Homo sapiens: one gene and its partners. The protein of the gene in region 2 interacts with the protein of the main gene of each other region in a biochemical or structural test. Each region holds a gene or a part of one and is shown on either strand. Other genes may lie near its edges.

Evidence for each region. Proteins that work in one complex are often made in the same cells at the same time.
Region 1: the proteins of LRP1 (region 2) and LIPC form a complex in vitro, tested with the Homo sapiens proteins (one study listed by BioGRID).
Region 3: the proteins of LRP1 (region 2) and FCN2 form a complex in vitro, tested with the Homo sapiens proteins (one study listed by IntAct).

The regions. Positions count from the first base shown.
Region 1 is NC_000015.10:58,539,318-58,543,761, forward strand, and holds part of LIPC (hepatic triacylglycerol lipase precursor), read left to right. Parts: intron 1-2,467; coding exon 2,468-2,650; intron 2,651-3,216; coding exon 3,217-3,334; intron 3,335-4,444. UniProt on the Homo sapiens protein: Catalyzes the hydrolysis of triglycerides and phospholipids present in circulating plasma lipoproteins, including chylomicrons, intermediate density lipoproteins (IDL), low density lipoproteins (LDL) of large size and high density lipoproteins (HDL), releasing free fatty acids (FFA) and smaller lipoprotein particles.
Region 2 is NC_000012.12:57,197,516-57,201,959, forward strand, and holds part of LRP1 (prolow-density lipoprotein receptor-related protein 1 preproprotein), read left to right. Parts: intron 1-29; coding exon 30-149; intron 150-640; coding exon 641-828; intron 829-949; coding exon 950-1,155; intron 1,156-1,696; coding exon 1,697-1,885; intron 1,886-2,361; coding exon 2,362-2,510; intron 2,511-2,926; coding exon 2,927-3,020; intron 3,021-3,183; coding exon 3,184-3,300; intron 3,301-3,518; coding exon 3,519-3,638; intron 3,639-3,981; coding exon 3,982-4,104; intron 4,105-4,264; coding exon 4,265-4,390; intron 4,391-4,444. UniProt on the Homo sapiens protein: Endocytic receptor involved in endocytosis and in phagocytosis of apoptotic cells. Required for early embryonic development. Involved in cellular lipid homeostasis.
Region 3 is NC_000009.12:134,878,660-134,883,880, forward strand, and holds the start of FCN2 (ficolin-2 isoform a precursor), read left to right. Parts: upstream 1-2,150; 5' UTR 2,151-2,162; coding exon 2,163-2,262; intron 2,263-3,866; coding exon 3,867-3,980; intron 3,981-4,642; coding exon 4,643-4,696; intron 4,697-5,221.

The DNA.
Region 1 (4,444 bases), on a different chromosome or scaffold from region 2:
GTGAAATTCTCCCAGTTACATCCATTGACCATATCTAAGTGGAAAGGTGGCTGAGAAGTATAGGCTGTTAAAGAAAATGTAGCCTTTTAGTGATGCTAAAAATTCTATTACTATGGAAGAAGGAGAGAAAGGATATTATTGGCAATAGATGAAGTCAAACCATGTGAGAACTTGTCTCCAAGAGGAAATCCTGCCTCCCCAGTGTCTAGCCCACCCATGATTTCAAGCATAGTTCACAATTTGAACCCTCCAGAGATTTTGGTGTCTACTTCATGACTTAGAAACCTTTCCCTGCCATCTAGTTGAAAAGTACTCTTGAAACCCCCATCTATCCTATCCTGGAGAGGAAAATGAACCCTTCCATCACCTGCCTCCCCTCACCTCTCCCTGCCTCCCACATGACGTTCCAGCAACATCTAACTGCTTGTATTAATAGCTTCCTCCACACCCCATGCACCTGCCTTCTCTCTTCTTGGTCTTGGCTTAGTCTGTGCCCTCTGCCTAGAGTGTTCTTTCTCCTCCTCTTTTCCTGATTAACTCCCACTTTTCCTGTAAGACACAGTCCCAAACAGGTCCTCCTGCAAGCCATTGCTGCCTTCATCCCAGCACTCCCACAGGGCATTCAGTGTCACCGGGAGTTCCCGTGTGGCCCTGAGCACTCTCCACCACTGCTCTGCAGCTCGGCTTTCTAATTGTCTGTGTTTCTCTGCTCTGCTAGGCCGTAAGCTTCTCCCTGGGAAGGATTCTGTCCTATTCTCATCTAATAGACTACTGTGGGCCACTATCCATTATGTAATCAGTGCTCCAAAATGTTTGTTAACTGAATTAAAGATCAAATGAATGAGTCTTGTTTATAAATGCAACATGAGGACCACAGGAGCCTCTTACCAGGATGCTTTTACCAAAATGCACTCTTCATTATCAAAATTCTGTCCAACCTAGTATATGTCTCCTCCTCCTATTACTGCTAATATTAATAACAACAACAACTGCAGTAACGAACATTTGTTGAGTCCTTACTATGTTCCAGACACTGCTCTAAGCGCTTTAGATCTATTAACGTATTTCTCCTTCATAACAATCCTGGAAGGAGAGCATTATTAACCCCATTTTCCAGGTGAGAAAACTGAAGCACAGAGAAAAATAACTTGCCCAAGGTTACTCAGCTAGAAACTAGGAGAGCCTAGATTTGAACCCAAGATGCTCCATGCACATAGAAGGCACTTGGTAAATATCTAGTAAAGGAATGCATCTTACCCTGGAATGGCATGACAGGCCCTCAGGGGAGCTCTCCAGCTTCACCCGCTATTGTCAAGCCTTCACCTCCTATTGTCTAGCCTTCACCTCACCAACTTTCCTCCTCTCCCCTGACATACCACACTGCCCTTTCATGATTCTGTGACTCTGCACGCACTGTTCCTTCTGCCTGGGATGCCCTAGACCTCACCACTACCACATTCACCTGCCCACCTGTATTCTTTTTGTTTCTTTGTTTTGTTTTGTTGCGATAGGGTCTCACTCTATCGCCCAGGCTGGAGGGCAGTGTGATCTCAGCTCACTGCAGACTCGACCTCCTAGGCTCAAGCCATCCTCCCACCTCAGACTCTGGAGTAGCTGGGGCTAGAGGCATGCACCATCACACCTGGCTAACTTTTGTATTTTTTGTGGAGATGGGGTTTCACCATGTTCCCCAGGCTGGTCTTAAACTCCTAGGCTCAAGCAATCCCCCTGCCTTGGCCTCCCAAAGTGCTAGGAGTACAAGCATGAGCCACCGCGCCCAGCCCCCACCCATATTCGTCTTACTGGACTCCTATTGATCCTTTAAGGCCCAGCACAAGTGTCTTTGCTCTGTAAATCCATTAGGAGTGCCCTGCAAATTGGTTCTCAAACAAGGCACACACACAGAACAATTCTCTGTAAACATTTTTTACCTCCTACTATGTCAGGCTCACAGTGCCCATCCCGCTAAGTCCAGCATAACGCAGTCTGCAGGGCAGAGCCAGTGCTATGGGTTTAGGGGTGAGGTGGGGCAGCTGCACGCAGAAGGAGGCGTACAAATGGCCCTAAGGGACAGGTCAGCTTCCAGGACCTGATTTACACATATTTCTCCACTGTTTTAAGGTTTAGAAAGTCCCTAAGAGGAAAAACATTAAGATAATTGTTCTCGGGAGGGGGCGGGGGGGAACGTTTGGAAAAATCTGGAGACATTTTTGGTTTTCAAAACCTGGGGCAGTGGGTGGGTGTTGCTGGCATCTAGTTGGTGAAGGCCAGGAATGCTGCTAAACATCGTACAATGCCCAAGACAGCCCCCACAACAAGGAATTCTCTGGCCCAAAATGTCAACTGTGCATGGCTGAGAAACGTCATAGCAAGCCCTTCCTCCAGCATTATCCAGGAGCTGGAGAAGGAAGAAGGGTGAGCGGGGAGAAAGGAAACTAGTGCGACCCTCCCTCTGTCCCCTCCTCAGGTGGACGGCGTGCTAGAAAACTGGATCTGGCAGATGGTGGCCGCGCTGAAGTCTCAGCCGGCCCAGCCAGTGAACGTGGGGCTGGTGGACTGGATCACCCTGGCCCACGACCACTACACCATCGCCGTCCGCAACACCCGCCTTGTGGGCAAGGAGGTCGCGGCTCTTCTCCGGTGGCTGGAGGTACCGACCTGCCCCATCCTTCCTTCACCTCCCTTCCCTCCTTTCCCTTCCTCTGAGAGTGAATGAATTAAGCTGGTCTCCAACAGCAGCCCAGGCAGGAGAAGCACTAATGCTCAGCTCACAGGAATGAGAAGGCACAGGACTGACACCAGACCCCAGGGCTCTCTCAGACGCCTCCCTTGAACCCCTGTTTCACAGAACCACCTTCTCCCCTCTCCTCATCCACTATTCCTCTTATGCTCACCCCCTTAGACATGCTAAGGGATACAAACACACCCTGTAAGCTATCAAGCCCCCACACAAATGAGTGGGATCACTTCTGTAGGGCATTAGTGTCCAGGGGAAGACAGGCAGGCAGGAGGCTGCAGCTACAAGGCGAGGTCACAGGTACCTGAGTCCCAGGAGAGTCAGCCAGTTGAGAGATTAGTTTCAGTTTGGAGTGTGAATAAGGCACCTCATTTCTGAGCAGGCACGAAGAACAGGGTGGGCGCCACAACACACTGGACCGCAAAAGGCTTTCATCCAGGCAGCTCTTCTCCTGCCCCCATCCCGCTGCTGTCTTCCAGGAATCTGTGCAACTCTCTCGAAGCCATGTTCACCTAATTGGGTACAGCCTGGGTGCACACGTGTCAGGATTTGCCGGCAGTTCCATCGGTGGAACGCACAAGATTGGGAGAATCACAGGTAACCATGCCTAATAACTCACACACTGATCTCCACTCCATAGGGGCATCCAACAAGGACCTGCTTTTCCAACAGGCTCATCATTAAAACACCCCAACACTTATTGTGAGGGATCAGCGCTCATGAGAGGACTTGTGACATTCTTTCAAACATGACCAATGTCATGGATTGCTGTTCCAGAGAATTCAGAGCAAATTATAGCCTCAATTCCTATTGCCTGCCCTCAAACGAATACCTCATGTTGGTGTGCCAAATGGGACTAAAAGATGGACTTTTCTAGCAAGAAAGAGTCTTATTTTTTAATCTATAATTTACAAAGTCCAATTTGGGCGAGTTAAGGAGTGAAGAATCACAGCCTTAATTTGCTGTAATTCATCAGCCACGTTAGTGCCTCCGTTTCCACATTTGTGAAACGTGTATGTTTTAGTCTGGGACCCATTTGGGTTGAGGGAGGGAGCTCTGCATCCAAAACTTCACCCCAAACTCCATACACACTCAGAAATGGCCCAAGATATCCAGGAAGGTCTGCACATGTGCGAGGAAGGCCTTCCTCCCAGGCTTCCGTGACACCAACCCCACCCTTCACACTGCCAGGCATTGGATCCAAAAACACACAGCTGGTGAGATTGTTCCCCAGTCCAAGTCTGAGGCCCACTGATACCACAGGTATAAAACCCGGGAGGCACAGGCAAGGCCTTTCTCGGTGTGGAAGCCCCAGAGTGCCCCAGCCTCTCCTCCTGCTGATCCCTTCCCATAGCTCTAGGCTTCAACGACACAAGGTTTTTCTCTACTTCACAAACACACCATGGCCTCTTGTGCCTCTGGGCCTTTGCATGCACTGTTTGCTTTGCCCACCACTCAGCCACTCAAACTCCTCCTCATCCTTCAAGACCCAGCAGGCTCAAACAATATTTCACAGGCCAAAACAAAGAGCATTTTACATGAATAACAAAGTTGTTGCGAATTTATATTTTATCAAGTGAGGACATTTTTTTTTCTTTTGAGACGGAGTTTCGCTCTTGTTGCCCAGGCTGGTGTGCAATGGCATGATGTTAACTCACCGCAACCTCTGCCTCCCGGGTTCAAGCGATTCTCCTGCCTTAGCCTCCC
Region 2 (4,444 bases):
TTCTGCTGTCCTTCACTCCCCAAATCCAGGGCCTGAACAACGCCGTTGCCTTGGATTTTGACTACCGAGAGCAGATGATCTACTGGACAGATGTGACCACCCAGGGCAGCATGATCCGAAGGATGCACCTTAACGGGAGCAATGTGCAGGTGAGGCGGGCGGCCCTCGGCGACCAACACTGGCCCGCCTCAGATGACTGTTTTCAGATCGTCTCTCCTTCCCGCCCCACCAACCCAAATTGCTTCCTTCTCACTCCACTAGTCACTATATGACTGCTTGTTCTAGCTGCTCACTCTCCTCTGGGCCCAGACAGCAAGGACTGGGAGATTCCTCTTGCCCTTCCCCTCGCTGCCAGCCTCATGTCTCCTTAATCATCAGGAAGTTCCCTGTGAGGTCTGGCCAAGCACTGTGAGGCTTGGGGCGTGGTCCCATTCACCTAGAGCCCCCTCTCCTAGAGCCTCTGCTGACACCTACACAGTGTCAGGCCCAGGACTGGGCATTTTACTTCCATGGTTCTCCCACCAGAGCTGTCAGAGGGAGCTCTACCCCATTTTACACGAGGGGAGGCTGAGCCTCACAGAGGCTTGCAGGTCCTCCCCCAGGTCACCCAGAGCTCTCCCTCCCCTGCCCCTTCCTGCAGGTCCTACACCGTACAGGCCTCAGCAACCCCGATGGGCTGGCTGTGGACTGGGTGGGTGGCAACCTGTACTGGTGCGACAAAGGCCGGGACACCATCGAGGTGTCCAAGCTCAATGGGGCCTATCGGACGGTGCTGGTCAGCTCTGGCCTCCGTGAGCCCAGGGCTCTGGTGGTGGATGTGCAGAATGGGTATGTGGCTGAGGAGGGTTGGGGGAGCCCCTGAAAGCAGCATCCAAGCCCAGCCTCCCTGCAGGCCACTGGTGCGATGGGTTACGGGATCTCCCAGGGCTCACTGCCTACCCATCGCCAGGTACCTGTACTGGACAGACTGGGGTGACCATTCACTGATCGGCCGCATCGGCATGGATGGGTCCAGCCGCAGCGTCATCGTGGACACCAAGATCACATGGCCCAATGGCCTGACGCTGGACTATGTCACTGAGCGCATCTACTGGGCCGACGCCCGCGAGGACTACATTGAATTTGCCAGCCTGGATGGCTCCAATCGCCACGTTGGTCAGTGTGCCAGTGAGGCTGTCCAGGCACAGCAGACTCAGTGGGGATGGAGGTCTGAAGCGACAGGGGATCAAGTTTTGGGGGCAAGAGTGGACATAAAAAGCGGAGGATATGGCCTGAGGACACCACTCACTGGGGTGTGGGGTTCAGAGCACCCCGGGGGCTTCCCCAGCCTGGCCACCACCCAGCTCCCTTGGGAAGGAAGAGGAGAGGCCCTTCCCTTGTATACACAGTTCTGGAGGACTGGCCCCAAGGAGGGTGGGGGTGGGAGGCCTGCGATTGAGAACTGCAGTGCTCCCCACTTCCCGAGGGGAGCCATACACTGGCAGGGCAGGAACTTGCCATGAGGCAGTCTAGGTTTGAACTCCAGCTCTGACACTTGTTAGCTGTGAGACCATGGGGGGTCTGTACCATGAACCATCTGTAACTGGGGCTGACACCCACCTCTCAGGGTGGTGGTAGGGCTTGAGGAGGTGGAGTGGGCCGGCACCCTGTCCGAGCTCCGGCTGACTGGCACTGTGCCTGCCCCTTGGCCCTGCAGTGCTGAGCCAGGACATCCCGCACATCTTTGCACTGACCCTGTTTGAGGACTACGTCTACTGGACCGACTGGGAAACAAAGTCCATTAACCGAGCCCACAAGACCACGGGCACCAACAAAACGCTCCTCATCAGCACGCTGCACCGGCCCATGGACCTGCATGTCTTCCATGCCCTGCGCCAGCCAGACGGTGAGCAGGCAAGGGGTGGGAGCAGGCGAACGGTGAGCCAGGCACCGGGGTCCCTGGGAGTTCCTGCTCATCCCTTCTCTAGCATTGACCAAGCCCTCCTGGCCAGACACTGGGAGACTCCAGGAGGGTCTAGACAGGGGATGGTCTGGCTCCCGGGAGCTTCAGCCCGGCCTGGATCCAGCCCTGGAGTCTGGCAGCAGCAAGTCCCTGAGGCCAGTCAAGTGGGGGTCTGGGTGCCCAGCCCCCAGAAGGAAGGCAGGCCGGCCCCTGGGAGGGAAGCACAGAGGAGGTGGGGAGCTGGCCTTCAGGCCTGGCCTGATCCTGGGACCTTAGAATCCTCTCCTATCTCCAGCTTCAGCTCCCTCCTAAAAGAGGCAGGGTTCAGACCCACCCGCCTCTGTCCAGGATAGAGTGAGTGAGGCAGCCTTTGGTAGGCCAGAAAATGTCACCATATTTCACGACGTTTTCTCTGGCAGTGCCCAATCACCCCTGCAAGGTCAACAATGGTGGCTGCAGCAACCTGTGCCTGCTGTCCCCCGGGGGAGGGCACAAATGTGCCTGCCCCACCAACTTCTACCTGGGCAGCGATGGGCGCACCTGTGTGTCCAACTGCACGGCTAGCCAGGTGAGGCTGTCCCCCAGACCCCATCACCAGTGCCCGCTCCCCAACCCCCAAATCCTCCTTGGACCCCAACACCTGCTCTGTCCTAATGTCCTCATGCATCTGGTTTTCCCACACTAACACCCCCACATTTCTTGCCTACCTCTTGTCTCCCCACAGCAATACTTTTACCCCCGTCACCTCACACAGACACCTCCACACCCTAACCTTGACCCTCCTTGCCATGCTTCAGTGCTGCCTTCCCCACCCTATCCCACGCAGCCCCATACCTGGCCTTTCCGAACTCACCATAGCCCAACCTGCCCCATAACACCCTGACCCCTGCCTCAACTTCTTTGAAACATCCAAGCCCCTCAAAAGAAAGACTTCTGAGTCCCCCAGACCCCCACCAACCCCTCTTGCCCCCACCTGCCCTCCAGTTTGTATGCAAGAACGACAAGTGCATCCCCTTCTGGTGGAAGTGTGACACCGAGGACGACTGCGGGGACCACTCAGACGAGCCCCCGGACTGCCGTGAGTGCCTGCTGGGGGTGACAGGAGGGCCCCCAGCTGTGTCGGAGGCCTGACTCCTGAGGCTTTGAATGGCCACTGGAGAGGCTGGGGCTGTGGTGCCCTGCAAGTGGACCTGGCCGTGTCCACCCCAGCCGCTCTGACTCTGAGCCTCCCTCTCTGGCAGCTGAGTTCAAGTGCCGGCCCGGACAGTTCCAGTGCTCCACAGGTATCTGCACAAACCCTGCCTTCATCTGCGATGGCGACAATGACTGCCAGGACAACAGTGACGAGGCCAACTGTGGTAAGGCGCTGCCCGCCCACCCTCCCTCCTTCCCCAGCATCTTCCCTGCCCCAGGATTTGGGGCTTTCAAGTGCAGGGAAGTTGCAGCCCACGGCAGCTTGCTCTCCAGGCTGGATTCCTATGGCTCAAGCCTGTGTCCTCCCTGCTGAGGGATGGGCACCCTCTCCCTGCCCCTGAGTCCTCCCTTCGCCACGAATCACCTCCTCCTCCCTCCACAGACATCCACGTCTGCTTGCCCAGTCAGTTCAAATGCACCAACACCAACCGCTGTATTCCCGGCATCTTCCGCTGCAATGGGCAGGACAACTGCGGAGATGGGGAGGATGAGAGGGACTGCCGTGAGTGTCAGAGGTGGTGGTGGGCCGGTGGTGGGAGATGACACGGAAGCAGGGCAGGCAGAATCTCCCCACAGCTTTGAGAGGCTCTCAAATAACTTTAGTAGATGGGCAACACAAATTATATTGGGTGTAACTTGCTTTGCTCATAAAAATCATCATGCATGATATAGAGACATAGAGATCCAGAAAACAAAAAGCACCAAAACTGGGGATAAACTGTTCCTTCCTCCGAAGAAGTTGCTGGCAGGACCAAGGCCAGGGCTTGGAAGAGAGAGAAGACAGTGATGGTGAACTGGAGTGGCAGGTGTAAGGGAGGGCCCTCATTCTCTTGCCCACCCCACAGCCGAGGTGACCTGCGCCCCCAACCAGTTCCAGTGCTCCATTACCAAACGGTGCATCCCCCGGGTCTGGGTCTGCGACCGGGACAATGACTGTGTGGATGGCAGTGATGAGCCCGCCAACTGCAGTGAGTTGCCTGGCCTGGAGCCCAGCTTCCCTCCCCAGTGTCTGCTGCTCACACCACCCCGACGTGTGACCCCCTCAGTGGCTGCTCCCTCACTCTCCCCACCCTCCCGGCACACTCCTGGAAGGAGTCTCATCCTCACCCCATGCCCACCCGCTTGCAGCCCAGATGACCTGTGGTGTGGACGAGTTCCGCTGCAAGGATTCGGGCCGCTGCATCCCAGCGCGTTGGAAGTGTGACGGAGAGGATGACTGTGGGGATGGCTCGGATGAGCCCAAGGAAGAGTGTGGTGAGCCGAGACCCCACTCCAGGAGGAAGACAGTCTACCTGGGTGGGAGGCATG
Region 3 (5,221 bases), on a different chromosome or scaffold from region 2:
TGGGGAAACCCCATCTCTACTAAAAATACAAAAAGTAGCCGGACATGGTAGTGCCTGCCTGTAATTCCAGCTACTCGGGAGGCTGAGGCAGGAGAATCGCTTGAACCCAGGAGGCGGAGGTTGTGGTGAGCCAAGATTGTGCCATTACACTCCAGCCCGGGCAACAAGAGCGAAACTCCGTCTCAAAAAAAAAAGTGTACTTTAAAAGCTGCATTCTGCCTTCATTTTAAAAGTGTGACTTATAAACCTTATTATTCTATCTTTTAATAACCACCTATAAGGAGCCTGTGAATAATTCTTGGTCCATTCCTTAACTTAGCCAACTAAACACCTTCAAACATTGTTACTGCATTTATACATTTAATAGAACCACATTTATCCTTTAGTACCTTGTCTAACTTTAAAAAATCCTTCTGAATATGAACTGCTAGAAATGTAATCATTTAAATTCAGCATGTGATAAACTCAGAGTTCCAATAAAGTGATTCAATAGTTTATATGAATTCGGTAAGTTTTCCGCATAAATGCACTCTGCCAAATCAATTACTCAATTGGCCATTTTCTGTTGAAGTTATCCTGCACCCACTCCAATAGGCCAGATTCTCTTGATTATTGCAAGTACTTTAAATAGCATATTTTTTTAGATTTCTGAACACTAAAATATTAATATAATGTCTTTGGGCTTTTAAAGCCTTCTAGACTTAATTTTAAGTCATCTAGGTTTGAAAGATGCTTCTATTAGGAAGGACAAATAGCATGCAGTAAAGGAACCTGCCTAAGGACTCGGAATTTTGGCTGCTGGGGTTTCACTGGGCAGCTCTGGGGACCTGGCTCCTCTGCAGGTGACTTCAGGACTTTGAGGAAGATGCCCCCAAGCCATCTTTCTAGGTTCCATATCTGCATCTCCATGGAGCCTGTGTCTTCCCCAGGTTCATCCCTGGACCTCATCTGCATCTGGCATAGCCTTAATTAAGTCTTGAGAGGTCTGCCCTAAACACCACGGAACCCGAGGGGGGTCTTAACTAGTCATAGTCTCAGGACCACACATCTCCATGGGCATTGAAGGAAAATCCGATGGGATTTTGTTTCTCGCGTGGCTTTGCTGGGCTGGGGTCACAGTTTAAAATCCTTCTACTGATCTTGCCAAGGAAGAAGGCACCTCGGCATCCCGATGGCAGCAGGTGGCAGGGTGCGGTGGTGGTAGTGGGAGGTGCAGTGCTGGTTCCGTCTCTGGGGGCTTTAGGTATACGGCCTCTGGGGCCCCACCTGCTACTGTCTCTGTCTCTAACCTGGCTCAGTCCAAGGCGAGAGTGCACCTTCAGGCCAGCTCTTCTCCAAAAGGCGAACACAACCACTGAAGTAAGTCCACAGCCATCCTACAGGTGGGATGTCTGGCCTCAGGGCTCAGGGGGTTCCCTGGGCCCTAGGAGTGAAATTCACCTACTCTCATCCTCCCTACAGGCTAAGCCCCTGCATTCACACTCAAGGTCTCCCCTTCAGATGTGTACCTGGGTCATAGTCCCCCAGGCTCCCCACTCTTCTCTCCTTTCCCTCCTGTTCATGTGCCCCTGTGCTCTACATACTGCCCCAGGAAACAGTGGACACACACGCATTTTCCTCTCCTTTTCACCCTGGCAGCCTGCCTGGACCTCATAGTGGCAGTTTCCAAGCCTCCTGAGGAGAGTCCCAAGTCTGCTCATGATGTGGTGAGGGTTACTGTGTAAGGCCCACACCAGTGGCCCATGACCAGCCCTGGCCATGAGGACTCTAGGTATTCGGATAAGGGAGAGAGACCTCTTTGAAGCAGAACATCTTTAGCAAACCCTTCCTTGTTCCCCGTTCTCAGCTCATGGTGACATCTGCTCACCGCTGAACAAAGGTGGGAGGATGGGCCTGGGCTCTTTGCCCAAGGCCACAAGCAAGTCAGCCTGTTCCCTGGAAGGAGACCGTCCCCCTGCAGGGATGACAGTCGCCATGGGATCCCCAAGGGGCGGGGGGTAGGGAGCAGCCCTGGAGATGATCTCGCACCTCCTGCTGGCGTCACCAAGCCCGCGGAGAGGAAGCGGCTGTCACTCGGAAGATGAGAAATTGGAGTCTGAGGGAGGCTGGCTTCTCTAGCCCTATAAGAGGGCAGGCACCTTTTGAAGCAAAGACCAGAAGAGATGGAGCTGGACAGAGCTGTGGGGGTCCTGGGCGCTGCCACCCTGCTGCTCTCTTTCCTGGGCATGGCCTGGGCTCTCCAGGCGGCAGACACCTGTCCAGGTAAGGGCACTCCAGGGCCTCCTCCTGGAAACTTCTCGTCCCTGAAAGCTGGCAGCTTCGTGATTGGTGGCTTCCTGGCTTCCAGGCCTTGCACCAGGCCGTGTGGAGCATCGTCTAACGAGACAGCAGCTCTGCATGCCTCATCTTATGTGAACAAACGCAGAGGCCCCGAATGGATGTGGCATCTCAGAGACGGAGCTTCCTCTGCTTGCCCTCCCATAATGGAAACCGAGGCAGGTTTCCAGTCTCCCTGGGCCACATGTCCCCCTCTAAGCGTAAAAAGCGTAGTCATGGTGTTGTGTGGGGAGGTGAGGCTTGTGGTGCCAGCTGGGTAGACACCAGTCAGATATTCTGCCATGGTCGCCATCACAGAGAGACAGGGTGTGAGGTGGGGATAAGCACCCGGAAAGACAGGGTGTCAGGCGGGGATGAGCACTGCAGGACCTTTCCATCCAGGACCTGCTGGGCTCTGGAGATGGCAGTTCCCATGGTGTCCCTGATGCGGCACAATAAGGGTGGCATTGTCCCCGTGAGTTCTGGACCTCCTTCGGGGCTCCCGAGGGGACACTCGGGTGCCAAACCATGGGCTCCGGCGCATGCGAGGGCAGGTTGAAAATGCAGGTTCTGGAGTCAGGTCCTGACTCCGTCTACCCGGGGCTGGGATGCAGGGTCAGGAATTTGTGATGCTCCTGATGCTTGCAGAGATTCGTGTCAGGATTTCTGGAATGCATGTGAGACACAGAGCTCTGCGGTGTGCTGTGACTAGCATCGCATTCAAGGAGCAATCCGTGGCGTGAAGTGTGACACAGGCCAGGAACAGCGGGGATTCGCTTGGAAACTCCTAGTGGCTCGTTGTGGAGTGGTGGGGTTAGGGTGGCATTATTTTCTTCCTTAAATACTTCTAGAGTTTCTAAATGATCAAATAATAGCACGTGTTATTTTTGTAACACACTCACTTGAATTTGAGTTATCTAATTAAAAACAACAAGCTGCATTCCAGCTCTAGTTTCGCACCAACTTGTTCAGTGTCCTTGAAGGACGCCTCCCTCTGTGGAGGAACAAGGTGGACCCACAGGAGCCCATCCACTCTCAGATCTGCTCCAAGATCAGGCGTGGGAGTTGCAATGGTAGCCTCTCTCCCTGTGTCCTTCTCACCCGATATTGATTACAATGATATGATAGATGAGAACAGACGAGATTAGGATGCTGTCTTAAATGGTAGGAGCTGAAATGAACCTGCACCCCTCGGTAGGTAAGGGAACAGAGGCTCAGAGGGGTTAAGGGACTTGTTTCAGGACACACAGTACTGAGGAAGTAAGGTTTGCCTTCAGGCAGGGTAGCCTCCAAGGCCAGGGTTCTGCCCCAAATCACCTTTCTGCCTGACCAGTGCCCAAGAGGTGAGGACAGACCAAGTGCCCACCAGGGCAGGAAAACCTCCCTTCCAGGTGACCCTCCAGCTGAGGGAGGTGGCTGTGGCTATAGCCATCTGCCCAGTCCTGATGTCACCAAGATGGCAGATGCCTTTCAGTTGAGTGGTATATCTATGGCTCAGTGGAGTCTTCAGGCCCAGGTGACACTGAGTGGCCACCTGTGTTTTTCTGCAGAGGTGAAGATGGTGGGCCTGGAGGGCTCTGACAAGCTCACCATTCTCCGAGGCTGTCCGGGGCTGCCTGGGGCCCCTGGGCCCAAGGGAGAGGCAGGCACCAATGGAAAGAGAGGTAGGTGCAGGCATGGCTGGGGGCACTGGCTCTTGCTCTTTTTGAAACCAGATGCTGAGTTGGGCAACACCCCCACCATGGTTCCTAGATCGAGAGCTGGGTCAGGCCCCTGCAAGAGCCAGGAAAAGAACTGACTCCCAGGGCCCAACAGGGTTCTGACATGGAGGGAGCGTCTTTCTTAGCTATTTCATGAGCTCACATTTGGACATGCTTCTGTAGCTCTGTCTCCTAGTCCTTGATCCAATACCAGCTTTGCTCGGCCGCTGGCACGACTTCAAGCTCTGTGTCCCTCCACCTTCCCACCTCAACACGGAGGCCATGACACTCTTCTCCACCTGTCTCAGATGAGGAAACTGAGGCTCAGAGAGTCCAGGGATTTCGCTCTGTTCTCACACTTGGAAGGAAAAGAGCCGAGATTCTACCCATGGTCTCTGGATTTCCAGCTCCCGGCCCCTGAGTGAACAGGAGAGCCCCGTGAGGCCTGGGTCCTGGATCTAGAACCTTCTGGTGCAGGATGGGCAAGCCTGGGCGGGGCCACAGTCACGTCGTAGCACGAGCAGGGTCATGGTCATGATTGGAAATGACAGCCGCCAGCTCCAGGGTGGGCCCTTTGATCCTGGGCTGGGCAGTTTTCCTCAAGTCAGTGTCTTTGGAAATTGCAGGAGAACGTGGCCCCCCTGGACCTCCTGGGAAGGCAGGACCACCTGGGCCCAACGGTAAGGAGGGGACAAGAGTGAGAAGCGGCTTCAAGGCCCTTCCAGACCTGGCTGCAGAGGAACGTGAGGCGGGTCTTCTGGGGCTGCCACGCTGTCCTCGCCAGAGCCAACGCCTGCCCAGGCAGGGCTCTTGGGGCTTAGTCCAGGGCAGGGGTCTCAGTGTGGGGGAAGGGGTCTCAATGTGTGTGTGGGTTCTCAGTCTGGGGGAGTGGGGTTATCAGTGTGGGAGCTGGTCTCAATGTGTGTAGGGGGTCTCAGTTTGGGGGAGTGGGGTCATCAGTGTGGGGGCAGGGTTCTCAATGTCGGAGGAGGGGTTCTTGGTGGTGTAGGGAGAGGTTCTTGGGGTGTGTGTTGGGGGAGGGGTTCCCGGTGGGCAGGCTGTGGGGAGGTGTTATCAGCAGGGAGGGAGGAGCTGTCAATATGGGGGAGAGATTCTGGGATGGGGGAGAGGTTCTGATTATTCGGGGAGGGACTTTTAGTGTGGGGAGGGGTTCTTAGTGGGGGGGCTGTCTGTATGGGGGGGTT